2 separate regions of the Homo sapiens genome follow, and region 1 is linked to region 2. The links come from fine-mapping of genetic effects on gene expression. A gene starts in region 2. The other region holds a variant in brackets. All regions are shown on one strand. Distances are from middle to middle.

Region 1 (15,205 bases), 88 kb before region 2:
TAACGAACCTGCACATGTACCGGCAAACCTAAAATAAAAGTTAAACAAAAATAAATAAAATTATATGTTTTTTTCTCCTACTTTATTGTCCATTAAATTAATAGTTTCATTTTGACTTCTTCATCCACATGGTAATCTTTTATTATTTCTTAACTATCTTCCATGTTTGGCTGTTCTAGTTTTAGCTTTTGAAACCATTTTTACTAAATCTAGAAATTTCCCATTATTTCTGTAAATATTGTGCTGTTAATACCATGAAAAGTGCCATTGTGTTTGGCTAAGTATTGAACATTTATTATTATTTTAGGAATATTATATCAATGTTTTTTATATTGGCTTTTAGTTGTTATTGTGGAATACTGTCAATTGCTGTTTATTCAGCTTTTTTTTTTTTTTTTTTTTGCAGTTCCAGTGATTCATGTGATCCTTTTATGCACAAGTGATAGTCATTTTCCTTTAATAGAGAACCTAAATGTGTCCTTTCACAAGTCTCTTCACTGGCCAAAGCTAATCATGAAGATAGTTGTGAAACATGAGAGTAGCTGCAGAACTTTGGCTTTGTGCTTAGCATATAAAAATGTCTAGTTTCTCCATCTGAAGGAATTTTGATGGAAAATGAAATATTAAACTTTCTGCCAAGCTGGGTGCGATGGTTCACACCTGTAATCCCAGCACTTTGGGAGGCCGAGGCAGGTGGATCACTTGAGGTCTGGAGTTCAAGACCAGCTTGGCCAACACGGTGAAACCTCGTCTCTACTAAAAATATAAAAATTGGCCGGGTGCAGTGGCTCACACCTGTAATCCCAGCATTTTGGGAGGCTGAGGCCGGCAGATCACGAGGTCAGGAGATCGAGACCATCCTGGCTAACATGGTGAAATCCCGTCTCTACTAAAAATACAAAAACAAAATTAGCCGGGCGTGGTGGTGGGTGCCTGTAATCCCAGCTACTCGGGAGGCTGAGGCAGGAGAACGGCGTGAACCCGGGAGGCGGAGCTTGCAGTGAGCCGAGATCATGCCACTGCACTCCAGCCTGGGCGAGAGAGGGAGACTCTGTCTCAAAAAAAAATATATATATATACGTAGATATATGTATATATTATATATACATGTATATATGTATATATTATATGTACATGTATATATGTATATATTATACGTACATATATGTATATATATTACATACATATATACGTATATATGTATATATGTGTATATATATGTATATATGTGTGTGTATATATATATGTGTGTGTGTGTATGTATATATATATATATATATATACACACATATATATATATAAATTAGCCAGGCATGGGGGCACGCACCTGTAATCCCAGCTACTTGGGAGGCTGAGGCAGGAGAATCACTTGAATCCTGGAGGCAGAGGTTGCAGTCAGCCAAGATGGCACCACTGCACTCCAGCCTGGGCCACAGAATGAGACTCCATCTCAAAAAATAAAAAAATAATAAAAGTCGTAATGCAAGAATCTACTGCATTCCTAGTATCAGAGAGGAAGGACATGACAAGTTTACCCTTTCTCATTCCCAAGGATTTCTGCCGACCAAGTTCATCATGCTCTGGAGTAATTCAGTTGCCAACATCGGGAGCAGTCACCTGCAGTCCCTTTTGTTTTGAGAACATTGGACAAGAAATATGGAGAAGAATTTCCCTGGGGACTAAACAGTATGGCCAGGTCGTGTTGTACTGGCAGACCCAAGCCCTCCCAAATGATGGACGAACTTTTGTGCTCTTTAATATTTTTTTTGTAAATGTGTTTGTGATATGCAGGACCCTCTCCAGAGCAGGCTTAGGCAGTGGCCCTTCTCATCTGGCCATAAGGGTAGTACTGCTCCTCTTAAAAGCTTGTGCTACTGTCATGAGCATGAAGGATGCACACACACTGACTCATTACCCTTGTGCAAGGTCACCTCTGACCTTTACTGCAGCCTTTTCCCAGGCACCAACCCCTTAGATAGGGCCAGGAAGCCTGGAACTGGCACTGACTTAAAACAGAGAGGAGCTGTATTCTACCCACATGCCTAAGAATGAAATCTCCAAAGGCCACTGCTTTGTTTTCCAACTTGTATGAAATCTAAATAGTGCTCCAAAATGAAATCCTTGTGCCTCCAGAATTGTAACACATATACTTGTTTTAAAGTCTTTATCATAAAAGCAAAACAAAACAAAACAGAACAAAACAAACAAAACAGAACAAAACAAACAAGGAAGAAACAGCCAGGCATGGTGACTCACACCTGTAATCCCTGCACTTTGGGAGGCCAAGGAGTGGAGGATCACTTGAGGCCAGGAGTTCAAGACCAGCTTGGGCAACATAGGAAGATCCTGTCTCTAAAGAAATAAAAAAAATTTTAAAAATTAGCCAAGTGTAGTGACATGTGCCTGTAGTCATAGCTACTTGGCAGGATCACTTGAGCCTAAGAGTTAAAGGCTGAAGTGAACTATGATCATGCCACTGAACATCAGCCTAGGTGACAGAGCCAGATGCTGTCTTGAAAAAACAAAAAAACAAAACAACTCAACAATAATAATTCTTATCATTTTTTTTAATTTACAAAGCATTTTTTGTACATCCTCTTCTTATCTACCTCATCTGATGGCATTTTGTGAATGAGAAAAGAGGTTCGGAGACATTCAGTGACTTCTCCAAGGACACAAAACAGAGCTGAAACTTGAACCAAGGTCTTTCCAATACAGCATAGCTGTCTCATCATCAGGCCATAGACCTTGAACATCCTCCACCAAATACTTCAGTCCTTTAGTCTCTGTTAATCCGTTGTTTCTGCTCAGCCAGAATGCCTTTCTACCAGTCCCAAATTCATAGCCTTCCACATGCATCAGAGCTTCTGCCTTAATGAGGAGGAGCCACTTTCCATGCTTTTGTTAGACAGAGGGGCCTAATCCCTTCCATCTTTGCCTGCAGACTCCATCACGGTAACTCTGGCTAACATAAAGATGTGCCTGATGAATCATCACCTTCTTTGTAAGATGATGGTGCCAGCCTCTATGGGCAGACCCAAAGTCAGTTCATGATGATGCTTAGACCTGTCTACCACAAAATGAGAAAAACAAGGACAATATAGTGAATTTTGGTAGCACTGAATTGATCAGATTAAGGATTATTCTTTATTCTGTGATTATGTCCTTTTTTTTTTTTTTTGCAGGGGTGGAGGCAGGTGGGTTTAAAATATCCTTTTTTTTTTTTAATAAAATGATGATGCTAGTATTATAGATGGTAGTTTGAAAAGTTTAATGTCTTCACTTGGCAAAGTATCAAAGTGGCAACCTTATGTCTTTCCCCAAAATGTCTTAGAAGGTTTTATTAGTCTTGGAATTCTAGACATCTGAGAACTACTGGCTTGGGGGATGATTTAATATTTTCTGACTCCCTAGAGTGTCACCAGTGGTGTTCTATGCCTCAGTGAGGTAGTAGCTGATATGGGTTTCCTAAATGACATTTAGTGAAAATATTGGCCTCGTGCTTAATATAGGCACATGAGTGTCACCACTTTCTACCAAACGACTTATGAAAATAGTGGCACAGTAAAGTAATCTGATGTATGGAAATACCTCCCAATTTTACAGGCTCTTCACGTATTAAATAAAGGGAGGGCTCTGGAGAAGCTAAAAGTCTCAAAGGTAGTATGTCGTACTGAGCAGGGATCCCCAACCTCCGGGTTGAGCTTGGCCTGTTAGGAACTGGGCCGCACAGCAGGAGGTGAGTGGCCAGCGAGTGGGCATTACCGCCTGAGCTCCACCTCCTGTCAGAGCAGCGGAGGCTTAGATTCTCATAGGAATGAGAACTATTGTGAACTGTGCATGCGAGGGATCTAGGCTGAGTGCTCCTTATGAGAAATTAACTAGTGCTTGATGATCTGAGATGGGACAGTTAGTTTCATTGTCTTCCACAAAACCGGTCCCTGGTGCCAATAAGGTTGGGGACCACTGAGAATGTAGACTATGGAGTCAGATAACCAACGTTCAAGACCCAGTGATGTCTTGCCATGTCACACTTAGGAGACAAATTACTTATCCTAAGTCTCAATTTTCTCATCTTTAAAATGGAAGTAATACTAATGATGCTAACTTTATAAGACTGTTCTGAGGATGACATATGTATAAAGCACTTAATATAGTGTTTGCTGTATAGCTAGCACTTGATAGACATTTGTTATAGATAGGCGTGGAGAAAAAGGCAATGGGGTTAGAGGGAAAGAATTCCGAGGTCCACATATGGGATAAGAAGAGCAACAGGGCTTGTGAAGATTTAAATTTTTTTTATTTTTATTTTTGAGAGGGAGTCCCGCTCTGTTGCCCAGGCTGGAGTGCTGTGGTGCAATCTCAGCTCACCACAACATTCGCCTCCTGGGTTCAAGTGTCCCCTGCCTCAGCCTCCCAAGTAGATGGGATTACAGGCACCCACCACCACGCCCGGCTAATTTTTGTATTTTTAGTAGAGATGGAGTTTCACCATGTTGCCAGGCTGGTTTCAAACTCCTGACCTCAAGTGATCCACCCACCTCGGCCTCCCAAAGTGCTGAGATTACAGCGTGAGCTACCACACCCAACCTAAAAATGTTTTTAATTGTCATCTAACAAGAGAAAAGAGAATGGTTAGGCTGGGTGCGGTGGCTCATGCCTGTAATCCCAGCACTTTGGGAGGCCGAGGCTGGCGGATCATGAGGTCAGGAGATCGAGACCATCCTGGCTAACACGGTGAAACCCCATCTCTACTAAAAATACAAAAATTAGCCGGGCTTGGTGGCGGGTGCACCTGTAGGCCCAGCTACTCGGGAGGCTGAGGCAGGAGAATTGCTTGAACCTGGGAGGCGGAGGTTGCAGTGAGCTGAGATTGCGCCACTGCACTCCAGCCTGGGCGACAGAGCGAGACTCCATCTCAAAAAAAAAAAAAAAAAAAAAAAGAAGAAGAAAAGAGAGTGTTTTAATTTGGGTTTGGGCAGGGCTGTTGTAAAGCAGCAGAAAATCATCAAGATCTAAACGGGAGGTAAGAAAAAATGAAAAGACTAAATGTCTTTATTTATGGGACATTTGACTCTGGAAGAGAAATCCTGGGAAAGGGGGTTTTATTGCATCAGACCCCCGACCAGGGAAGCAAATGTGGTCTGCTTAGGAAACCTCCCTTTTTTTGTGTGTACCAGAAGCTCAGCAACAAATAATTTCCCTCAAAAGCCTGGTTTTTAAATGTGCTAACTAGACACAGTTCTAGAATAACTACAGCCCCCAAATTTAAATTCCAGAAATATGCTATACAGGCTGAAAATAATTAAAATTTAAAACAAAATTATCATAAAAAGCAAATAACATAACGAAATGCAATGCATGAATCTTTAACATATTCTGGATTTAAAAAAAATTTTAGTTAAAAGGCATTTTGGGAAAAATAAGAAAATTTAAATGAGGACTATATTTTAGGAGATATTAAATTAGCGTTGATTTTCTTAGGTGTGATAAATGGTGTTGTTGGTACATAAGAAAATGTACTTATTCCTAGTTGCTGCATGTGAATTATTTTGGGGCAAATTGTCATGAGGTCTGCAATTTCCTTTCAAATAATGCAGGAGAGAGGAATCTCTCTATACAGACAAAGGATAGAGCGAGTAGGGCAAAATGCTAAGAAGTGAATTTAGGTGAAGAATCTACAGGTGTTAATTGTATTACTGCACTACACGTTCAACTTTTTTGTAGATTTGCATATTTTCTACATTAAAAGTTTGGAGAAAAGCTAACTGGATCGCGCCTCCACTTACAAATATAAAAAAGTCTTAGCGAAGGGAAGAAAAGTGAAAGAGACAGGGTTCTGCTTCGGTTTCCCCACGTGCAAAGGTGTGGAGGAGGCTGCAGTTTTAAGCGCTTGCCTGGGCGCTGGCTACCTTCTTCTGGCCTCGGTGCGGTGACTTCCAGCAAGGGAAGCCACCTACGTTGCACTGGCTTCGTGGGCTCCACGATTATCTTAAAATGTTTTCTAAATTATTTGAATTGCGATGAGACTATGTGGTTCTGGGGAAGGTAAACATGGCGATTAAATAGTGAGATTTTTAAAAATAACACCAAAAGAGTCACGCGTGCACGTGGAGGAATGTGAACGTGGCGAGTGGCAGCACCGCCCGCGGGGAGATAGATGCTCCGGGCACCGGTGGAGCTGTGAGGGCCCCGGGCTCCGGGCGCTGCGCGATGCTGCGATGCTCCGGGCGAAGCTCCCGGCGCGCACAGGGTTAACGCCGGGCGAGGGGACCGCGCGTCCTCTGCCCGCCCACATTCCTCCGCTGAATGGAGGCGGTGGTCTGATGCCGGTGGGGTGATTTCGCCCCTCGGCGTCCGACCTTCCCACTGGCCAGGCCCGCGCCCCTCCCGGGCCGGCCCTGAGCTCCGCAGTCACGTTACCTTCCCCGCTATTCACGCGGCCCTGGGGTGTTACAAAGAGAGACATTAAGAAGTCTGTGGGCATCGCAGGGGCCCGGAACGTGGGGACAATTACCGTGGCTCTGAAGGCCCCTGTCTCCCAGCCTTGTAATCTGACCCCTGCGATGATGTTACAGGGGCCCCTCTGTTTGCAGATTTGTTTCTTTGTCTTAATTTTGGCAATAAAGTGAGCTACAACTTCAGAAATGTGTGTGTGCCCTTTCATTAAATCCGCATTAACCAAACAAAAAGGAGACACTTTCATTGATTTGCCTTTGTCTAATTTATGAAGCATATTTTACAAAATATAAACCTTTTTAATAATAGGGAGAAAATCAGGTTTTAGGTCTATGGAGACCTAAATGAAAATACATGTTTTCACAAATAATGCTCCAGAACGAAGTCTAATCATTTAACCTTCTCTTGAGATTAACCACATTGTGGGATTTTTTATTTGACAGCTTCAGCTGGCACTGTTTTTAAAAAATCTTATAAAATATATAAAAAATAAAAAAGAGGCCAGGTGCGGTGGCTCACCTGTCATCCCAGCACTTTGGGAGGCCGAGGCGGGCGGATCACTGAGGCGGGCGGATTAGGTGGGCGAGACCAGCCTGACCAGTGTGATGAAACCCCATCTCTACTAAAAATACAAAAATTAGCTGGGTGTGGTGGCATGCCCCTGTAACCCCGGCTACTCAGGAGGCTGACGCAGGAGAATCGCTTGAACCTGGGAGGCAGAGATTGCACTGAGTAGAGATGGTGCCATTGCACTCTAGCCTGGTAACCAGAGCGAAACTCCATCTCAAAATAAATAAATAAATAAATAAATAAATAAATAAAATAAATATAGTAAAGCATAAAAGAGGCCAGGGGCAGTGGCTGACGCCTGTAATCCCAGCACTTTGGGAGGCCAGGTGGATAGATGGTTTGAGGTCAGGAGGTCTAGACCAGCCTGGCCAATATGGGAAAACCCTGTCTCTACTAAAAATACAAAAATTAGCTCAGTGTGGTGGCGCTCACCTGTAATTCTAGCTACTGAGGAGGATGAGGAATGAGAATCGTTTGTGCCTAGGAGGTGGAGGTTGCAGTAAGCTGAGATTGCCCCACTGCACTCCAGCCTGGGCAACAGAGCAAGACTCTGTTTCAAAAGAATAAATACATTAAATTAAAAGAGTGTAAATGCTTCACTTTTATTACATGACTCAATGACCATAAAAATTAGAGACAGTGTGATTAAGTGGGCGTCAGTCCATTTTATGTTGCTATAACAGAAAACCCAAGACTGGGTAATTTATAAAGAACAGAGATTTATTTCCTACAGTTCTGGAGGCTGAAAAGACCAAGATCTGGCAACTGCGTCTGGTTGGCTTCCAGTGCGGGTCCCATGCGGCAACATCACATGGCATAAGGCATCATAGGGCAAGGGGGGTGGGGGTGCACTGAGACCCAAACTGGCTTTCATAACAGACTTACTCTCATGATAACTAACCCACTCCTGTGATAACCCACTAAGCTATTCATCCATCAATGGATTAATCCATTCATGAGGGCAGAGCGCTTCTGACCCTAATCCACCTCTTAATATGGTTATATTGGGGATTAAGTTTTAACATGAATTTCAGAGGGGACAAACATTCAAACCATAGCAGCATGCAAAACAAAATGACATTTATTATTACTAGAGAAAGTAAATTAGCATGCACAGAAAGAGTGAAAGGAAATGTCCAAGGAGAATGTGAATTTACTCCTTCAATTAGTACTTCAAGGGCTCATGATGAGCCAGGCTCTGGAGAATGAGCGGGCCATTGGTCCTGCCTTCAGGGATGTCCCATTCAACCAGAGGAAGAGTGTTGAATCAAGTGGTCCATATCACCAAGGCCAAGTACCAGGTGCTGCAGGAGCCCCTCAAGGAGCGATACTCCACGGGTTCGGGGTCACAGCTGTGTGAAGACGGGGGAAGAAGGAGAATTCCGGCAGGTTTCCTGAAGGAAGAAATGCTAAACTGAAACCTGAAGAAAGAGCGGAAGTTAGGCCAGTGGGTCTCCAACACTGCTGGACGTTGGAATCACCTGGGGAGCTTTAAAAAACTCCCCACAATCAAATCATAATGTCTAGCGTGAGAGTCTGGGATCAGAATTTTCCAAAAAACATTCCAGGTGATTCCAATGAACAGCAAAGTTTGGGGAATTACTAAGGCAAAGGGAGGGAAGCTAAGGTTTTTAGGTTTTCTCAAGGAAAACACTTGGCCAGCAGGCATGGTGCAGGTGCTAGGATATAATTGTTCTTTGATTCGTCCTTCTGCTTCTCACTGCCCTGCCTCTAGTAAGCACTCAGGAATGTTTACTGATACTGGAACAAAAGCTAATAAAAATTTAGATGTATCCAAAAACCAGTCCTTCCTCAAGAATGTCTTTTAGCACTCACTGTTGATGAGTTAGGGTCTAAAATGTATAATGGCAGGCTCTCACAGAAGGACATAAAATCCAGCATTTTGGCAGCTA[G/T]GGGAAAAAAATCCCTCTTCTCTCAATTCCTGTTCTCCATCTTCAGTCATTGCTATAATTGTAACTTCACAGGCAACCATCCAAGCAATTTTGTTTCTATCTTCAAATGGCTTCCCCCTCTTTATTAAAAAAAAGCGCAAGGCCTGCCAAAATTCAGAGTATTTTAATTATGAAAGGTCAAGAACAGCCTAAACAAGAGGCCACAAAAGAAAGAATATTCCTGCTGGTGAAGGGAGACAAGGTATGGGGGCTGGAAGCAAGGGCCCTCCCTCTACCCGGGGGCCACATTTTATGCCTGCTGCTCTCAGAGAGCAGGATTTGCCCATCACTGTCTCCTGGCTAAGCACACTTTGACATTCTGCTCTGTAATGTACCTTGGCATGAAATGGCCTCTGGCAATTTATCTCCTGCTTTAAATGGTAATTTCAAGCCTACAGGGTCTTTAAATGGGAAACGGGAAAGAAAACCTCTTTTAATCCAGGCTGAGGCAGCCTGCATTTTCATTAGCTCACAGACCACAGGGTAGGAACTCCTTTTCTAGGAGAAGACGGGTCTCTGACATTCTAAGAGATCTATTGAAGCTCAGACTAAGAACATGATGTCACACCACTCAAGCAGCGCCCCAGGGAGCAACATCCCCACGTTGGCTCTATCTTATTATATTCACCTCTAGGGACCTTTACATCTCTCCGTAGGAAAGCAGGAAGGGAAATGCAAAATGGATTCTGTCTTATTGGTCCTCCCCTGAAGCACTAGGTCCAACTGTGACCCCATGGGATTAGCAGGGGGAGTTTTGTGACTTAGATTCAAGCCACAAAAGCTCTCTCAAATGCCGGAGACTCCACGGGGACCAGGCAGGGAACGGGGTGTGGCCGGAGAGGACTTTTTTCATTAGTCCTGGATCACACACAGGCGGTAAGGTGTCTGTGCCTCTGAAGCCAACCCGTAATGCATGATCAGCACAAAGCCCTGAGCAGTGGAAGCTGACCTAACATGACGCAAAGCCTGTTGACAAGGAAGCAGAGCGTGTTTCGTGGAATGTAAGTGTGGGTTTTGAAGCAGGCTGTCCAAGTCTCGCTAGGAGCTGTCGCCGAGCCCTGAAAATCAGTCAGGCTTTTCCAAATATCTTTCCTCTTGGGCACAGTGAGGTCACGCCTCCTCACATTTATATGCCGTTTCTAGTCTGCCAAATGTTTTCACAGACATTACCTCATCTGAGCCTCTTAGCCCCTCTTCCAGTCGCCAGGGCATATGTGATTATTCTCCCTCTTTTAGCAGCATGGGAAACTGAGGCTCAGAGGGAGTAAATGACATGGGGGGAAAGAGCTGCCCTCTTGAGCCCAGAGCTGACTCTAAAGTGCTTTCTATCCACTGGAATTCTTCAAGTCTGGGCTGAATGTTACTTGTATCTGAACCACCAAGGAAGTTCAGGAAAAATATAGATTTCTGGGCCCCACTCTGACCTTCTGAAACTGACCCTCTGGGCAACACTCAGGAACCTTTTTTTTTTTAGAGATAGGGTCTCACTCTGCCACTTGGGCAGGAATGCAGTGGCAGGATCATAGCTCACTGCAGTCTTGAACTCCTGGCCTAAAGCAACACTCCGGCCTTAGCCTCCCGAGTAGCTGGGACTAAAGGAGCAGGCCACTGCCCCCGGCTTATTAAAAAAATATATATATATATATATTTTGTGGTACAGATGGAGTTTCACTAGTTGCCCTGGCTGCAGAAGACTATTTTTAACCTGAAGATTCCCCAGCCGATTCTGGTAAGAATCACTTTTGGTAACTAAAATATATAAGTCAACTTTATATATAAGCCAAAAGCCAGCCTCATGCTTAAGGGAAGAACACTAGAAACATTTCTTTAAAGTCAAGAACCAGATAAGACTGCCCACCATCACTATTTAACATTGTTCTGCAAATAGTAGCTGATGTTATTAGTCAAGAGAAAAAAAAAGTTTAAAAAATTTAAAGGATAAAGTAAAATTATTTTTACTTCCAATTCAGATATTATCTGAACCCAAGAAAATCAACTGAAAAACCATCTCAAACAATAAAAAAATTCAGTAAGATGGGTGCACATAAAATTAATAAATAAAAATTAATAGCTTTCCTATTTATACATAAAAAGCAGTTATAAGATGTAATGGAAGAAAATATTCCATTTATATAATAACAAAAAATATATACCTAAGAATAAATGTAACAATGAGAAGAATTGTTACTTAGAGACACTATTATTATTATTATTATTATTTTGAGACAGGATCTCACTCTGTTGCCCAGGCTGGAGTACAGTGGTGAGATCTCGGCTCATTGCAACCTCCACCTCCTGGGCTCAAGCAATCCTCTCACCTCAGCCTCCTCAGTAGCTGGGACTATAGGTGCATGCCACTACACTTGGTTAATTTTTGTTTAAAAATTTTTTGTAGAGACCAGGTCTCACTGTGTTCCCCAGTCTGCTTATATACTATTCTTGTACAGAAAGATTCAATAATATAACTTAATTTCTTCCTAAATTAATATACAAAATTTTCATGACCTAATAACATGTCAACCTATTTGAGGGATGAAGTGTGAAATTTTACAAACTGATTCTAAAGCCACTATGGAAAAATACATGTGTAAGGATTCTTTTTTTTGTTTGTTTTTTTTTTGAGACAGAGTCTCACTTTGTTGCCTAGGCTGGAGTGCAGTGGCACAATCTCAGCTCACTGCAACCTCTGCCTCCCAGGTTCAAGTGATTCTTCTGCCTCAGCCTCCGGAGTAGCTGGGACTACAGGCGCTCTACCCATCAATGTGATGGTATTTGGAGATGGGGCCTTTAGGAGGTAATTAGATTTAGATAAAGTCATAAGGGTGGGGCCCTCATGATGGGATTAGTGACCTTGAAAACAAGACAACAAGTTTAAGATCAGGGTGCCAGCATGACCGAGGTCTGGTGAGGACTTTTTCCTGGCTTGCAGACAACTGCTTCTCACTGTGCCCCTTGACATAGACGAGGAATTAATTTTTCTTTCTTTCAATCATGAGGGGTGGACCCCCCTCACAACATGTTAGGGCATAGTGAGAAGGCAGCTGTCTGCAAGCGGGAAAGAGGATCCAGAGTGATCCTGTTGAAGCTTAAGTCAAACCATGCCACTGCTTTTGCTCACAACCCTGCAGTGGCTCCCCATTTCACTTAGAGTAAAAAGCTAAAGTGCTAAAAATGCCTAGCTTGATCCTGGGTGACCCACCTTTGCATCTGTGACACGATTTCCCACTCTATCCCACTCCAGCCTTCTCCAAGCACACAGGCAGGATCCCCTGAGGGCTTCTGCAGTTGCTGTTCTGTGCGTAGAATGCTTTTCCCCCAACACTCCCCACGGCCTACTCCTCCACTTCCTTTACAGTTGTTCAGATGCCACCTTCTCAGTGAGGCCTTCCAAACCACCTCATGTTAAATTCCGCTGCACCAGCCCCTTCTCTCACAGCTCACTCCCAATCCTCCCCACCCTGCTCTATTTTCCCCTATATCACTAATCACATTCTAAATTCAATATAATTTACTTACTTGTTTTTATTGTCAGTCTTCCCCCAACTAAAAGGTAAACTTCACAAGGATGGATTCCACTGATGTAGCCCCAGTGTCTAGAATAATGCCTGGCAAATAGAAGGTGTTCAATAAAACACCCGCCAGGTGAGTGAATGGGCTTATATGGTCTTTACTCAGTTCTTTTAAAGTCTGTTCATCATTATATGGAGACAGCAATAGCTAACAGTGCACTACCAGCAATAATGATAACCACAACATAGTTATTTATCAAATGCACTATCAGCAACAACAATAATATCAATAATCATAGTTATTTTTGAAATTTACCACCACTAATAATAGTATCAATAACAGTTATTTTTCAAACTACACTATCAAAAATCGTAATTGGCATGTATCACATCCCTGTACTATGAGCCAGATAATCCCACATAGAAAATATTATTAAATCCATTTTCCAGATGAGGACACTAGAGCTCAAGGGTTAAAGAAACTTGCCCAAGGCCCAAGGCCAGTAAGTGGAGGATCTTTTCTGATTCCTTTTTCCACTGTGTTTGGAAACTCCTAAATGTGCTGGGCTCCTGGCATGCAGTAAGTCCGCCCTGAGGAAATAGGAGTCTTTGCTCACACTCTGTGGGAATGTCATTGGTTGCCTGTACAGAACTGCAGAATGGGTGGGTCTTTCTTCAGTTTTTCTGGTACTTCCAGTCTTGGACCATGTGGAATCACCACTCCCTCCCCACCCCTGCCAGCCTGCAGATTCGGTCAGAGGAGATTTCTGTCCCTAGAGGCAGAAAACTGCTGCAACTTGCCCTCCAAGAGGTGTGGACCAAAGAGGAAGCTGATGAAAATCTAACTGCCTGCCTCAATGTCTCTTGAAATGGATGCTCCAAAGGATGTTTTTACTTAGAATCCCTAATCAGCCGATTTTTAAACAGATTGATTTGAGGAACAGATGGACTCTGGATGAAGCTGTAATCCGGAGGTTGCCACTGATTTCTGTTGACAGTTTTAAACCCCACCTATTTGTCAACAGTGGGAACTCTTCTGGGGGAATGCTCTGTTCCTGAAAGAGAAGAATGTTTCCATTCTGACCACCGAATAAAGAGAGAATGGATCTAGGCAGGAGTGATTTGACTGAAGTTAAATAGGTTTTAATATAAAAAGGCTAGCAGATTCCAATGGAAGTGAATACAGTTGGTCTGTATTTACACACAGGGATTAAGCAAACTAATCCGATGGGAGTCTGTGCCGGCGATTGTTTGGGAGCAAGATAGATCCATCTGCGTGTAAAGAATTGTGAATGAATGAGGATCTATGGCTCAGTGGGCAGGGGGGGCATGGGGGAGACCACCAGTCTGACTAATCAGACATTCACATTTCCCACTGTTTTGTTCTATTGTATCCAAATGTGAGAAGCTGCTCTCCAGTCCCCCACATACAAAGCTCTTTATTGGACTTTACTGTGGCATGATCCCGGCTGCTTTACTCCAACTGCCAGCCTCAGAAGGAGTTTTGCTTGATGGTGTCTGGCAGCTTGGCTTTGCTTCAGTAGATTTATGAGCTGTGAAAGATGGTCAAATTAACACCCTAAGCGTTCCTGATAGGATTAGAGGCCTGCATTAGCATACCACCCTGAAGTACCACACTATCTCTGTGTCTTCCCAGCCCTTCTGGGTGGGGTTTGGAGAGGGTAAGTGGGAGGTGATGCCACACACCCCTCTCCCAGCTGGCAACACAAAGGGTCACCATGTGATTCCAGATGATGTTATTTGGCATTTAATATCTAATGGCAGTGTCTCCCAATCAAAAGAACTGAACTGAAGTGGTGAATGCATCCCTTTTCAGGGCTGGATGCCCATCCTTGCTCTCATGGAGAGAAAGAGCCGTCTCGTCTTTGGGGTGAGATTGACAATCCAACCACCCTAACCAGGACTGGAGTGGACCTTAAAATATCCATTTAAGTCATAATGATTACTGATTGTTCTGATTATAATGGTAACACATATTTATTGTAGAAAATTTGGAAAATGATGAAAAATACAGCAAAGTAAAAATCACCCATCATCCCATTACTTAGAGATAGCTTGCCATTAACATTTTGGTGTATTAATTTATTGATAATCTGTTTTCTATGCATGTAGACAGGTGATTTGTTATTTTTGCTTTAACAAAGTGGGATCATATTGTTTATCCTAAATCTTTTAATATTATATCCAATACATTTTAATAAATTTCTTCTGCTGGGCGCGGTAATCCCAGCACTTTGGGAGGCCAAGGCAGGTGGATCATCTGAAGTCGGGAGTTTGAGACCAGCCTGGCCAACATGGTGAAACCTTGTCTCTACTAAAAATACAAAAATTAGCTGGGCATGGTGACGCATGTCTGTAATACCAGCTACTTGGGAGGCTGAGGCAAGAGAATCACTTGAACCTGGGAGGCAGAAGTTGCAGTGAGCTGAGATCCAGCCACTGCACTCCAGCCTGGGTGACAGAGCGAGACTCAAAAAAAAACAAAAAACTTATTTGGAAAAGGTTATACAATTAATATATATTATATTACTGTATATTATATATTTACTATATATTATATAATGTATATTATATATATATATTTCTTTTTTTCTTCTTGAGACAATGTCTCCCTCTGTCACTCAGGCTGGAGTGCAGTGGCATTATCATGGTTTACTGCAACCTCTGCCCCCCAGGCTCAAGAAATTCTCTCAC
Region 2 (15,205 bases):
TATTCTTCAGCAGTAATAAGCATATCTGAAGTAATCAAAATGGTGACTCACAGGTTAACTCCCCCAGAAAGGAGAGTTAGATGTGCACAGAAATAGCTGGAGTAAAATAACTAGCTGTTATGAGAGACAGTGTCAACTGGGAAGATATCTGTCCCAAAGGATTGGTGATCTAAAGGAAGGTCAAGTAGTAGCCTTCTGTCAAAATAAGGCTGGAAAGAGAAGAGGGTTGCATGAAATCAGAGTTAAAGAGAAAGACATAACTGAAACTGAAGTTTTAGCTGAGGCGATCGATATGGGTAGAATGGGTAAAGTGATTATATCCACATAGTTACCAACATTCCAAGACACAGACTTCTGTGTCAATGTCTGTATCAACATGATTCCCTAGTCATTAAGATGTCTGAAACCAGTCTGGTGACTGATAGTAGAGGTATGATTTTACAGTCACACTGTAAGGACTACAATATGTGAGTGAATGTAATCTGCTATGCTGAGACAGTAGATTAATAGTCTGAGATTTTAATGTTTGAAGCCACATCTTGGGCACTTAAAGGAAATTATTTGGAGGCAGTCAATAGGTAGCTATGTTTAAAAAAAAAAAAAAAAGTTGCTTGGAGTTTGGCGAAATCTTTAGATTGAAGATACTTCCTGGCTGGGCACTGTGGCTCACACCTGTAATCCCAGCACTTTGGGAGACAGAGGTGGGTGGATCACCTGAGGTCAGGAATTCGAGACCACCATAGCCAACATGGTGAAACCCTGTTTCTACTAAAAATATAAAAATTAGCCAGGCGTGGTGGTACATACCTGTAATCCCAGCTACTCGGGAGGCTGAAGCAGGAGGCAGGAGAATTGCTTGAACCTGGGAGGTGGAGGTTGAAGTGAGCCAAGATCGCACCACTGCACTCCAGCCTGGGCGACAAGAGTGAAACTCTGTGCCTCACCCCCACAACCCCCAAAAAACCATACTTCCCAAACTGAGGAGTAATCCTTGATAAAATCTCTATTGTTATGGTCTCAAGAATAGTTCAAAGTACTTCTGTTAAGCACCAATTTCTGGAAGAAAAAATGCTCTGCAGGGTATATTCTGATCATGTTCTCACTGGCCAGGTAGAACATGAATAGGCATATCATCAGAGTCAATGTAAATCTCCATATTCTAAGGATCTCTTTATGAGGAACCAGAAGCCTAAATAAAGTTGGTAGTCATGGCTGCTCAGGACACACTGTAGTTTATTTTGTAATTATGGAACAGCACTCAACTTCAAACACTGTTCTACTTGTGAAAATTCTGATGAAACCATACACAGAGTATGAATCTACTATATAGTACTTACAGTGAAGCAAAGCAGGCCTATCTGTAAAGTATACTTGTTGACCACATTAACCATGTGTCAGTTAATGGCAGGTATTGTGTCCTGTTCATTTCAGTTTACTCAGGGACAAGGTCAGTGTCTGGCATATAGCAGGACTTGACAAACATTTGTTTAATGCATGTCTAATACTCTGCTGGAATAGGAAAGGATCCTCACAAAGAATATGGTGTTAATGATTTGTGAAAACAGAGAAAAGCAGCCTCTTGTCAAATTTATTACTTATCTAGATGCCATCAGTTTCAGCAACTCCAGGTACTGCTTGCTAACTATGACTATTGTTAATAATATCACATTTTGCTGCTACACTGGAAACATGCTTTCATCTGAATGGTTTCCCAAAAGCTGTGAGGCAGTCAAGTTCCTACAGAGAAACCAACTTAGACTCTTAGGAAGTTTAACTAAATGCTATCCCCCTCCTGTCTTTCATAGTCCAAAGGTGGGATTAATCACTGATAACACAATTGGTCCCATATGAGATGGTGATGTCTTGCAATATCTAAAGGTAGGCTATCACACAGGGTTTTGTCCAAAGGCAAAGTTCTGGAAAAATGTCAACAAATGCCACAAAACAAAGCTCCTGTAGTCTGGGAGATTGGAAGGTATAATCAAACAGCCTTCAGCTTTCAAGCAACCTTTAGCCAGGACTCTCAGTGACACATTTTTTCTGAGGAATGTCATTTTAAACTTCTCATTTACTATTTTGTGTTACAAGGTTTCCCTCTGTTGCCCAGCCTAGAGTGCAATGGCGCAATCTCGGCTCACTGCAGCCTTGGCTCAAGTAATCCTCTAACCTTAGCCTCCCAAGTAGCTAGGACTACAGGCCTGCACCACCATGCCTGGCTACTTTTTCTATTTTTTTGTAGAGATGGGGTTTCGCCATGTTGCCCAGGCTGCTCTTGAACTCTTAAGCTCAAGTGATACTCCTGTCTTTGCCTCCCAGAGTGTCAGTTCTGTGCCACCATGCCCGGCTCATTTTTCTATTTTCTTGTAGAGATGAGGTGTCACCATTGTTGCCCAGGCTGGTCTTGAACTCTTGAGTTCAGGTGATACTCCTGCCTTTGCCTCCCAGAGTGCTGGGATTATAGCCTGTGGCACTGTGCCCGGGCCTCATTTACTATTAACTTTAGTTTGCTAAGATCCAGAAAATTATTTCCCACATATACTTCTTAAGAACGAAGAATACAAGGGAGAGGACTTTGCCCATCTCAACTTGGGATAGACATACTGTCTGGCCAGATTAGTAGAAACTTGGAAAAGAACGCCATGGCCTCTACGGTGATGAAATTTTGACCATCTGAATGGGGGTACACTGAAAGGAGTACTCCAAACTCTTGTTATTGAAGTCAACTGTCTACCTCCAAATCCAGCAAGCGCTGAGGGCAAAGGTATAGCTCAAAGTCTTGATAATACATTGGGAGATTTGATAAGTCAAGAAAGATGATGAATTCCTAAATAGACTGATCTTTATTTGACACTAGGGTTTCCTGCTGATGTATGATTTATCTCCCATAGCAAAAACCAATCCTGAAAACAACAATCTATAACTGTAGTTCTAGGTGAAGAGTGTTGGATAAATTTTGTGCATCTCTTGTAACTATGATGTTGGCCTACAGCCAAAGAAGAAAATGTTACTGAGAGGTTATTGGAGGTCTCCAATGGTTATCATTTTGGGAAAAGATATGAATGGCAATCACAAAAGCTAGTATATCTTTGGTAGCTGAGCAGCTAAAGCCTTCAATTGGAGGAATCATCCCACTTTCTTGTACTAGTGAGATTATAACCTGTTGGTCGAACTAGGCTGAAATCCTCTCTACAACATCTCTGAAAAATGCCAATCCAGCCACTGCTTGGATACTTCCAGACAGTTCGATCGCTGAATATTGTTAAAGGTTGTCTGACCCCTTGTAACCTTCCACCTGCTGGCCTTAGTTTTGACTCCCAAAGCCACACAAGTAATATCCACTCACTCTTTGTGATTCTTCCACATATGTGAAGACGATAACATGGTATAGTCTTCTTTCATCTCTAGAATAAGCAGCACTAATTTTCGTATCTATGCTTGTGCAATAAATTCTGGATGCTCTGATTCCACTTTCCTCCTCTGAATAAAAAAATCCCCTCTTATATTTGATTCACACAATTGAATATAATAATCCAAGTCCGGTCTAACTGGTCCTATGTATGTGGTTCAGTAGCATACTCATACTAACAGTAACATAACATACTATAAATATAAAATAAGTGTTACCTTGTTTAGCTAGGACTCTACAATGCAAGCTCCTACCCCTACTCCAAGAGTTCTAAGATTGTAAGGAATGCCACATATTTCTTTCATTTCTATGATGGGCATCAAGATAACTTTCTCCCCAAGTTTGTGTCACCTCTTCTTTACTTTTTAGAAATAAGTTCACAGAAGCAGAGTCTTCTTTACTGAAATTTGCTGTTTTCTAGGGCATTAACTGTCAAGAATTTCAGATACTTTTGCTTTTAGTAAAATTAGAGCAACAGCCACCCTACCACCAACTTGCCTCTACAAATTCTGTTGTGTTGGAAAAAAATCATTCCTGGCCGGGCGCAGTGGCTCACGCCTGTAATCCCAGCACTTTGGGAGGCCGAGGCAGGCGGATCACGAGATCAGGAGTTTGAGACCAGCCTGACCAACATGTTGAAACCCTGTCTCTACTAAAAATACAAAAATTTGCCGGGCGTGGCAGTGCGCACCTGTAATCCCAGCTACTTAGGAGGCTGAGACAGGAGAATCGGTCGAACCCGGAAGGTGGGGGTTGCAGTGAGCTGAGATCGTGACGCTGCACTCCAGCCTGGGAGACAGAACTAGACTCCATCTCAAAAAAAAAAAGAAAAATTCCTGTCTTGTGTATATCTGCGTATGGTCGGGGGCAGTGGCAGGCGGACTGAAAAGGAAACAATTTACAGAGTCATTTTTCTCCTAAGGAATTACTTCTTAAATAATATTTATCTAGAAGAAAAGTATGCAATCTAGTTCAGTAATAAAAAAACACCTAGTAGAAGGAAAATTCCTGTTTATGTTGACTATCTTCTTCATTAACAGAATTTAACTCTCTTGGTGCTAGCAACGGATTATTCTTTTAATTGAACTAACTTTTGGGGATGAAATTAAAGCAAATGTTTTCTAAACTAATTTTCATTTTCTGTGGTCTGCACGAATCTCTCAGTCCTAATATTACTTGGGAATCAAAACAAAAAGACAAAAACATGCCTCCCCCAGTAAAATCTCCAAACTTTAATCAGCTAAAAAAATTTTAAAATAATGATGTCCCCCATCACCTCCAATAGCTCACTCTATGACTGAAGTACAAACACAAGAAACTGCTTGATCAGGCAGTTACATAATACCACCACCTGTGTTGAACTTCCAACAGTATGCTTGCAGGCACATTAACATGACTGATAACTCACTACCTACAACAGATTATAAAGTATATTCTCCATATATTAAGTGAAAAGGTAGCTGGATGCACTTAAAAAGCTTCTCTCTGATGAACCTAAAATTCAGATTAAATTTACAAACCCAATTTTTAAAAAAGTTTCTTATATGATTGAAGTGCAGGACTTCAAAAGCTCTGGTTGAATGAAGAACCCCCACTTCATAATTTTTATTACTCCCTTTTTATACCTTTAACTCTTAATCTGATAACCTATACCTGATAATTTGGGTAAGTTGTGAGGGGTGGGTTGGTTTCCAAAATATTAAGTCTTCCAAACTTGAACAAAATGAAACCTATGTAAAAAATATGCTTTGAAACGTTGGGACAGAACTGAAGGTGGGAAGGCAGAGAAGGAACAAGGTCACTGAGGATCTAATAACATAATCTTACACCTCTAAATATTACTATTTTCAGATATGAACTCACTAATACACCAAATTCTTGAAAGGTAGCAACTAAGATCTTTCTTGGTTATTTTTATCCCACAGATCAAGTGAACAGAATCTAAGTAACCCTACCCTTTGGCTTATGTATCAGTTGATCGTGACAGTTTGCCAAATGAGTTGTTTAAATGTTGACTACATGGTCAAACAGGACAACCTAAATTAGCTGAAGAACGGCAGCACTTACCACCGAAATTTCGGGCAAAAAGGCTAACTAGGTGTGTTTGACTTAAGTATTCTTCCTTCTCTTTCCATTGCCCACAAACCGTTTCTAGTTCTCCCACCTAGGTTCCCTAAACTTTCTTCTTTTTAAAAGACTCCCCAATGGAAATCCAACAAAGGTGCAATTGATCAAAAAAGCATACCTCCTGGTAGTATTTACATTTAAAATCTGGAACAGGTTAAAGCGAACAAATCTCCAATTGGTAGAAAGTGTAAAAGTAATATCTGTGAAAGAGGAAATATTTCTCACTGCTCCTTTTCTCTTCATCAATCTAGCCCCAAAAGAACAGGAGTACTTTAAAAGGTATTCCCCGATTTTTCAAAAAATTGTTTTAAACAATCATGAAATACACAAAACAAAAAACCAGGATTGTCAGAGGTAAGAGGAGGTACTCCCATTTTCAATCACGCATGACTCACCTGAAGTTAGAAACAGTCATCATCTTTCCTACAAGTGAACAGCATGCATGCTTTATGGGAATAAGCTGAATATCCCATCTATGGCTCTTTTAAATTTTTCGACTAAATTTAATATGCTTAAATCATAAAGTGAACCTAATAAATATTAAAATAATGTAATTCAAACGATCTAAATTTCAGAATGAAGCAAGGTTAGTCCCAACTTAAATTCTAGATTCAAGCTAAAGTACTTGCACTATCTTTTCTCTTATACTACCACTTTCCGCCCAACTTGTATGTGTGTGTGTCTAAGGCTTCCCGCACCCAGCCTAAGTCAGGTTTCAGTTCTCCCAAACTTGCCTATTTCCCGTTCTAGTCACTCCAGAAACTTGGTAATGATTGGCTATTCTGATAAACCAATTAACGCTAATGTGTCAACGTCCTATTAAGCTACTCCTCCTAAATTACATCCTTGTATTTTACAAAGTCCTTCAAGACCTTAACCCAAATGGAACTTGCAAGAACGAAAAATTTTGGAGGTAACTGACCTTTTAAATCATAAGGTCTATCAACTACGTCCCCTACTCTTTCTTGTGTGTAGAGGCCTTCTAGGGTAACAAGACCGGAAGTTGGTACAGGTATTGTTGATACTGTAAAACAAAACAAAGCCAAAACCCCAAACCACCCCCAACACCTGGCAAAAAAACCAAACCAAGACAAAACAAAAAACTTCCAGCGAGTGTGGCACGCTCACCCTACCCCTAATCTCCTTAGTCCCCACTGGAAGAGAGCGAGATCACCAGGACCAGAGTCCTGGAGAAAGGTCGGGAGGCGGAGGAGCACTGGTTTCAGACCTGTGGGCCCCGGCTGCGCAGGTGGGGTCTGGAGCGAGGCGAGGGGACGCTGGCCCCGGTTACCTGCGGCGAAGTGCAGCGGGGTGGATTTCCTGCCCGCCGTGTCGCGGCTGTTCACCTTCTCAGGCGTCACCAGCCTCTTGACTCGTTCCACGTCCCCGTTGCGGCACGCCTCGAACAGCTCTCGGGCGGCCGGCTCCACGGCCTCGGCCGCGGCGCTCGCGCAGGCCGCTCCCCCGCCGGCGCAGCGGCGACCCGACATGATCCTGGCCGCCGCCACAGCCAGCAACAGCGCCAGCAACCGGAGCAGGAGCCCCGGCCCCGCGAGCAGGAGGGCGAGGCCCCCCGGAGAAGACGCGCTCAGGGCCCGGGCCGCTTGGCTCCCTGCTGTCACCGGATCCGGCGCAGTCCCATGGCCGCGCCCACGCGCGCCCCTCGCTGGGCTCCCTGCCCCCCGGCTGCCCCGCGGCGGCGGAGGCAGCGCGAATCCGCCGTCCGGGTCCTGAAACGACGCGGCGGCGGAAGCTGGCAAGGCCCCTCCTGCCAGCTCCGTCCAGCCCCGGGAGCGCACGTGACGTCGTCCCGCGCGTGCGCAGTGGCCGGGCACCGGCTGGGCAGGTTTCGGCTAGCGAGGCGGCGCGAAGGGTTTGTGGGAAATGTGAGGCGAGAGGCTTCGGCGGCGGGAGAAGGGGCTTCGTCCCACCGCCATCTTTGCGGTGGGTTCTGCTGAAGCCGAACGATCCTGCATATTGTGTTTTTTGTTGTTGTTGTTTTAAGCCCTGGGCTTTCCAGGCTGAACTTTCTCACTACCATTACACTGAAAAAGAGCCCTTGAAAGTTTTGCTCGGATCTTGCACATTCTTTTGGAAGTCTTACTGTGGAAATTGTCCGTGTTTTCAGCTTCCACATCCCTTTCTCCTGGGAGATTTCTTTTCCGTTTTTTTTACTTTGTCTCTTTTCTTTCCTCCGCAACTGCTTTGTTGTTGTTGTTGTTGTTTCTTGTAAACCACTTCTCAAAAGTGAACTAGTTGCCGTTTAATAGAAGTTTGGATGAACTGCCCCCAAAATAAAGGAAATCCGAACAGTCATGGAAGTTGACTCCAATTGGAGGGATGGCTCTGATCAATTACTCTTTCCACAGTAAGTTATTAGCTCAGGATTGATTAGAGGAACTTTTTGTAAATCAATATTGTACCTGACATGCCTAAAGTTTGGATACACTGAGCATACGCATCTCCAAGAAAGTTTTCTGAGTTATAATCTTTTTCTTTGACCAACAAACAAAAGAAAAGCATATAATTGATTTTCATGCTTAAGATACTGGTGTAGTTTTACACGATAATTCCCCACTACACCCCCTTGTCTTAAACTGAAAGAAAGGTATGCCTATACATACATTTTACTTACAGAAGATGATACATGTTGACCTTTGCCATTCTGAAAAGCATCCCCCCCCCAACCTCCTACCTTAACCTGTTTTTCAGGAAATCCAGTTTTTGTTGGGGAATGTTGACTCACTACAGTGCTAAAAGAGGATGTACACTTTTTTGAGCATTTTTATACATATGAAATTGAAGTTATGGTGCTTATCAATAACATGAACATGCATGAACGAACCTAGGACTAGAACACTACCAATATGATTGCGTTTATCATTTTTCTTCCCATAAATCTGCTATGGTGATCTATGATCAGTGATAAGTTGAAATCACTGTTGTAATTGTTTTGAGGCACCACAAACCACACCCATAGAAGACAGCAATCAATCAATAAATGTGTATGTTCTGACTGCCCCACTGACAGGCTACTCTGCCATCTCTCTCCCTCTCCTGGGGCCTATCTGTTCCCTTAAACACAATAATATTGAAATTAGGCCAATTAAGAACTCTGCAATGGTTTTCTAGGTGTTCAAGTGAAAGGAAAAGTTGCGTATCTCTCACTTTAAATCAAAAGCTAGAAATGATTCATCTTAGTGCAGAAGGCATGTTGAAAGCTGAGATAGGCCCCCTTGCACCAAACAGCCAAGTTGTGAATGCAAATGAGAAGTTTTTGAAGGAAATTAAAAGTGCTACTCCAGTGAACACATGAATGATAAGAAAGTGAAACAGACTTACTGCTGATACGAAGAACGTTTGAGTGGTCTGGATAGAAGGTCAAACCAGCCACAAGATTTCCTTAAGCCAAAGCTGAATCCAGAGCAAAGCCCTAACTGCCTTCAATTTTGTGAAGGCTGAGAGACCTGAGGAAGTTGCAGAAGACAAGTTAAAAGCTAGCAGAGGTTGGTTCATGAAGTTTAAGGAAAGAAGCTGTCTTCATAATATAGAAGTGTAAGGTGAAGCAGCAAATACTGATGTAGGAGCTGCAGCAAGTTAACTAGAACAGGGGTCCCCAACCCCCGGCCCTTGGACCGGTACTGGTCCCTAGCCTGTAAGGAACAAGGACGCACAGCGTGAGGTGAGCAGAGAAGGTGCAGGGCGGGGGATGGAGGCAGGGTGGGGATGGGCGGGGAGTGAGCATTACCGCCTGAGCTCCACCTCCTGTCAGATCAGCAGCAGCATTAGATTTTCACAGGAGCGCAAACCCTATTGTGAACTGCACATGTGAGGGATCTAGGAATTTGAGGCTATGGTGAGCTGTGATCATGTCACTGCACTCCTCTACAGCTTGGGTGACAGAGACCCTGTCTCTGAAAACAAACAGAAAAACCAGCTTGAATGGATGAGGAGTTACTTCTTATGGAGCAAAAAAAAATTTTTTTCAGATGGAACCTACTCCTGGTGAAGATGCTGTAAAAATTTTTGAAATGACAACAAAGAATTTAGAATGTTACTTAAACATAGGTGATAAAGCAGGAGCAGAGCTTGAGAGATAGGCTCTATTTTTTTGTTTGTTTTGCCATTAAGTTTCAACACCCAAATAGACTCTAATTTTGAAAGCTCTGTGGGTAAAATGCTATCAAACAGCATTGTATGCTACAGAGAAATCTTTTGTGAAAGGAACAGTCAATCGATGTGGCAAATTTCATTTTAGCTTCTCTTAAGAAATTGCTACAGCCACCCCAACCTTCAGCAACCATTATCAGTTAGCAGCCCTCGATATCATTGCGGCAAGACCCTCCAACTGCAAAAAGATGACAAGTTGCTGAAGGTTCAGATGACTGTTAGCATTTTTTAGCAACAAAATATCTATTTTTAATTTTTAAAATTGTTTGAATTTTTAATTTTTTGGGTACATCACAGGTGTATATATTTATTGGGTATATGAGATATTTTGATACTATCACTCAATGCCTAATAATCATATCAGGGTAAATGGGGTATCAGTCATTTCAAACATTTATCTTTTGCATTACAATCAATTATACTATTTTAGTTATTTTTAAATGTACAATTAGATTATTATTGACTATAGTCACTGTGTTGTGTTATCAAATAATAGGTTTTATTCATTCTTTCTAATTATTTTTTGTACCCATTAAACATCCCCCACCCACTTCACTTCTCAGCCTCTGGTAACCATCATTCTACTATCTCCATGTGTTCAATTGTTTTAATTTTTAGCTCCCACATAAGTGAGAATATGAAAAGTTTGTCTTTTTCTGCCTGGTTTATTTCACTTAACATAATGATCTCCATTTCCATCTATGTTATTGCAAATGATAAGCTCTCATACATTTTTATGGCTGAATAGTACTCCATTGTGTATATGCACCATGTTTTCTTTATCCATTCATCTGCTGATGTACACTTAGGTTGTTTCCAAATTTTGGCTATTGTGGACAGTGCTGCAATAAGCATGGGAGTGCAGATATCTCCTCAATATACTGATTTGCTTTCATTAGGGTATATACCTAGCAGTGGGATTGCTGGATCATATGACAACTCTATTTTTAGTTCTTTGAGGAACCTTCAAACTGTTCTTCATAGGGGTTGTACTAATTTACATTCCCACTAAAAGTGTACAAGGGTTCCCTTTTCTCCATATCCTTGTTGGCATTTGTTATTGCCTGTCTTTTGGATAAAAGCCAGTTTAGCTGAGATGAGATGATATCTCACTGTAGTTTTGGATGAGCAAAGAAAATGTTTTTTACATTTCTCTGATGATCAATGATGTCAAGAACCTTTTCACATGTCTATTTGCCATTTGGGTTTTTTGTTGTTGTTGTTTTTTGTTTTTTTGAGATAGAGTCTCACTCTGTCGCCCAGGATGGAGTGCAATGGCACGATCCCGGCTCCCTGCAACCTCTGCCTCCCGGGTTCAAGCGATTCTCGTGTCTCAGCCTCCCGAGAAGCTGGGATTACAGGCACCTGCCAGCATGACTGGCTAATTTTTGTATTTTTAGTAGAGATGGGGTTTCACCATGTTGGCCAGTCTGGTCTTGAACTCGTGACCTCAAGTGTTGTGCCCACCTCAGCCTCCCAAAGTGCTGGGATTACAGGCATGACCCACCGCGCCCTCTTCTATTTGCCATTTGTATGTCTTCTTTTGAGAAATGTCTATTCAGATCTTTCACCCATTTTTAAATCAGATTATTAGACTTTTTTTTTTTCCTTTTGAGTTGTTTGAGCTCTTTATATATTCTGGTTATTAATCTTTTGTCAGATGAATAGTTTGTAAATATTTTCTCCCATTCTGTGGATTGTCTTTACACATTGTTGATTGTTTCCTTTGTTGTGCAGAAGCTTTTTAACTTGATGTGATCCCATTTGTCCATTTTTTGCTTGGGCTGTTTGTGCTTCTGGGGTATTACTCAAGAAATCTTTGCCCAGTCCAATGACCTGGAGAGTTTCTCCAGTGTTTTCTTTTAGTAGTTTGATAGTTTCAGGTGTTAGATTTAAATCTTTAATCCATTTTGACTTGACTTTTGTATATGGTGAGAGATAGGGGTCTAGTTTCACTCTTCTGCATATGGATATTCAGTTTTCCTAGCACATTTATTGAAGATGGTGTCCTTTCCTCAATATGTGTTCTTGGCACCTTAGTCAAAAATGAGTTCACTATAGATGTATGGATTTATTTCTGGGTTCTTTATTCTGTTCCATAGGTCTGTCTGTTTTTATACCACTACCATGCTGTTTTGATAAGTCAGGTAATGTGATTTCTCCAGTCTTATTCTTTTTGCTCAGGATAGCTTTGGCTATTATGGGTATTTTGTGGATCTGTATAAATTTGAAAATTGTTTTTTTCATCAATGTTTTTTAGTTTTCATTGTAGAGATCTTTCACTTCTTTGGTTAATTCCTAGGTATTTAATTTTATTTGTAGCTATTATAAATGGGTTAATGGGATTACTTTCTTGAATTCTTTTTCAGATTGTTCACTGCTGGCATATATAAATGCTTCTGATTTTTGTATGTTGATTTTGTATCCTGTAACTTTACTGAGTTTTGTTTTGTTTTTTTTGAAACAGGGTCTAACTGTGTCATCCAGGCTGTAGCGCAGTGGTGTGATCAGGGCTCACTGCAGCCTCAATCTCCTGGGCCGAAGCAATCCTTCCACCTCAGCCTCCTGAGTAGCTGGGACCACAGGCATGCACCATCATGCCCAGCTATTTTTTTTTTTTTTTTTTTTTTTTTTGAGATGGAGTCTCCCTATGCTGATCCTGAACTCCTGGGCTCAAGCAATCCTTCTGTTTTGGCCTCTAAAATGTTCAGATTATAGACATGAGCAACTGCAGCCAGCCAACATTACTGAATTTGTTTATATGTTCTAAAAGCTTTTTGGTAGTCTTTAGAGTTTTCAAAATATAAGATCATATAATCTGTAAACAAGGATTATTTGACTTCTTCTATTCCAGTTTGGATACTCTTTATTTCTTTCTCTTGTCTTATTGTTCTACCTAGGACTTCCAGTACTATGTTGAATAACAGTGGTGAAAGTGGACATCTTTGCAGTGTTCCAGATCTTAGAGGAAGGTCTCTCAGTTTTTCCCTATTCACTATGATGTCAGCTGTGGGTCTGTTGTATATGGCTTTTATTATGTTGAGGTATGTAACTTCTATGTCCAGTTTTTTGATGGTTTTTATCATAAAAGGATGTTGAATGTTACCAAATGCTTTTTCAGCATCAGTTGAAATGATCATATGCTTTTTGTCCTTCATTCTGTTGATATGATGTATCACATTGATTTGTGTATGTTGAACCATTCTTTCATCCCTGGGATAAATCCCACTTGGTCATGATGAATGAGCTTTTAACGTCTTGTTGAATTCGGTTTACTAGTAATTTTGTTGAGGATTTTTGCATCAATGTTCATCAGGGATATTGGTCTGTAGTTTTCTTTTTTTGATGTGTTTTTCTTTTTGGTATCAGGATAATACTGGCCTTGTAGAATGAGTTCGAAAGTATTCCCTTCTCTGTTTTTTGGAATAGTTTGAGTAGGATTGGGATCAGTTCTTCTTTAAATGTTTGGTAAAATTTAGCAGTGAAGCCACCAGATCCCAGGCTTTTCTTTGCTGGAGGATTTTTTATTATGGCTTTGATTTCATTACTTGTTATTGTTCTGTTCAGGTTTTGGATTTCTTTATGATTCAAGATTGATAGGTTTTATGTGTTTAGAAATTTATCCATTTCTTCTAGGTTTTCCAATATATTGGCATATAGTTGCTCATAGTAGCCTTTAATGTTCCTTTGAATTTCTTTTTTTTTTTTTTAATTTTTTTTTTTTTGAGATGGAGTTTCACTCTGTTGCCAGGCTGGAGTGTAGTGGTGCGAACTCAGCTCACTGCAAGCTCCGTCTCCCCGGGTTCACGCCATTCTCCTGTCTCAGCCTCCTGAGTAGCTGGGACTACAGGCGCCCACCACCACGTCTGGCTAATTTTTGTATTTTTAGTAGAGACGGGGTTTCACCGTGTTGGCCAGGATGGTCTCGATCTCCTGACCACGTGATCCACCCGCCTCGGCCTCCCAAAGTGCTGGGATTACAGGTGTGAGCCACCGCACCTGGCTGTGATCCTTTGAATTTCTGTGGTATTAATTGTAATGTCTCATTTTTCACTGCTGATTTTATTTGAATCTTCTCTCTTTTTTTCTTAGTCGGCTAAAGATTTGTCAATTTTGTTTATCTTTTCAAAAAAATCAACATTTTGTTTCATTGATCTTTTGTGTTGCTTTCTTCATTTCAATTTCACTTAGTGCTGCTCTGATCTTTATTGTTTCTTTTCTTCTTCTAACTTCAGGTTTGGTTTGCCCTTGCTTTTATAGTTCTTTAAGACGCATCATTAAGTTGTTTATTGGAAGTTTTTCTACTTTTTTGATGTAGGTGCTTACAGGTTTATATTTTTCTTAATACTGCTTTTGTTTTATTCCATTATTTTTGGTATGTTGTATTTCCATTATCATTTGTTGCAAGACATTTTTCAATTTCCTTCCTAATCTCATTGGCCCACTGTTCATTCAGTTGCATAGTGTTCAATTTCCATGTGTTTGTATAGTTTCCAAAATTCCTCTTGTTACTGATTTCTAGTTTTATTCCGTTGTGGTTAGAGAAGACAGTTGCTATTATTTCAATTTCTGAATGTTTTAAGACTTGTTTTGTGGCCTAAGATATGGTCTATCCTTTAGAATGACCCATTTGCTGAGGAAAAGAATGTATATTCTGCAGCCATTAGATAAAATGTTCTGTCAATGCATATTAGTTCCATTTGGTCTATAGTGCACATTATGTCTGATATTTCTTTGTTGATTTTCTGTTTGGATGATCTATGCAGTGCTGAAAGTGGGGTGTTGAAGTCTTCAGCTATTATTGTATTGGTATCTATCTTTCTAATATCTGCTTTGTATATCTGGGTGTTCCAGTGTTGGATGCACATATATTTACAACTGTTATATCCTCTTGATGAATTGACCCCTTTATTGTTATAAAATGACCTTCTTTATCTCTTTTTATAGTTTTTGTCTTGAAAACTATCTTTCAGTCTGTATGTGTCTTTATATGTGAAGTGTGTTTCTTATAGGCAAATTGTTGAATTTTGTTTTTTAAATCCATTCAACCACTCTATGTTTTTTGATTGGAGAGTTTAGTCCATTTGCTATCAATGTCATTGACAAGTAAGGACTTACTCCTGCCATTTTGTTATTTGTTTTCTGGTCTTTTCCTCCTTTTTTTCCCTTCTTCCTATCTTGCTTTTAGTGAAGCTGATTTTCTCTGGTGGTATGATTTAATTTCTTGCTTTTCACTTTTTGTGTATTCATTGTATGTTTTTTGACTTAAGGTTACCATGAGGCGTGCAAATAATATCTTATAACCCATTATTTTAAACTGATGATAACTTAACATGGATTGCATAAACAAACAAAACTAAGAAAAACGCCACACTTTAACTTTGTTCCTCCTTTTAAAAAAATTTTTTGTTGTTCCTATTTATACCTCATTGTACTGTCTTGTAAAGTTGTTGTAGTTATTATTTTTGATCAGTTCATCTTTTAGTCTTTCTACTTAAGATA

Which allele goes with the higher level. Alleles are on the strand shown, and positions count from the first base shown. SD is a standard deviation of normalised expression in the study named.
As copies of G replace T in region 1, the expression in esophagus mucosa of the gene that starts at base 7,288 in region 2 goes up (small effect, 0.30 SD a copy in GTEx).

Evidence for each region. PIP is the estimated chance that this variant, and not a neighbour inherited with it, causes the effect. A credible set is the group of variants that fine-mapping cannot tell apart.
Region 1: its variant is the best candidate, but not a certain one, in a credible set for the expression of TNKS2 in esophagus mucosa (GTEx, PIP 0.69).

What each region holds. Positions count from the first base shown.
Region 1 is chr10:91,878,533-91,893,737 of GRCh38, reverse strand. No RefSeq gene overlaps it. Among named protein-coding and RNA genes, the nearest start is that of FGFBP3-AS1, 22 kb to the left of the region's middle. RefSeq lists enhancers at 11,625-12,124, 12,125-12,626. The variant G/T (reference allele first, on the strand shown) is at 8,943.
Region 2 is chr10:91,790,509-91,805,713 of GRCh38, reverse strand. TNKS2 (tankyrase 2) reads right to left here and starts at 7,288. Exons shown (of 27, transcript NM_025235.4): 1 at 6,825-7,288. The coding sequence starts at 7,023. It overlaps TNKS2-DT (TNKS2 divergent transcript), which reads left to right and starts at 7,423. Exons shown (of 2, transcript NR_108071.1): 1 at 7,423-7,477. RefSeq lists a silencer at 6,920-7,329 and an enhancer at 7,410-7,579.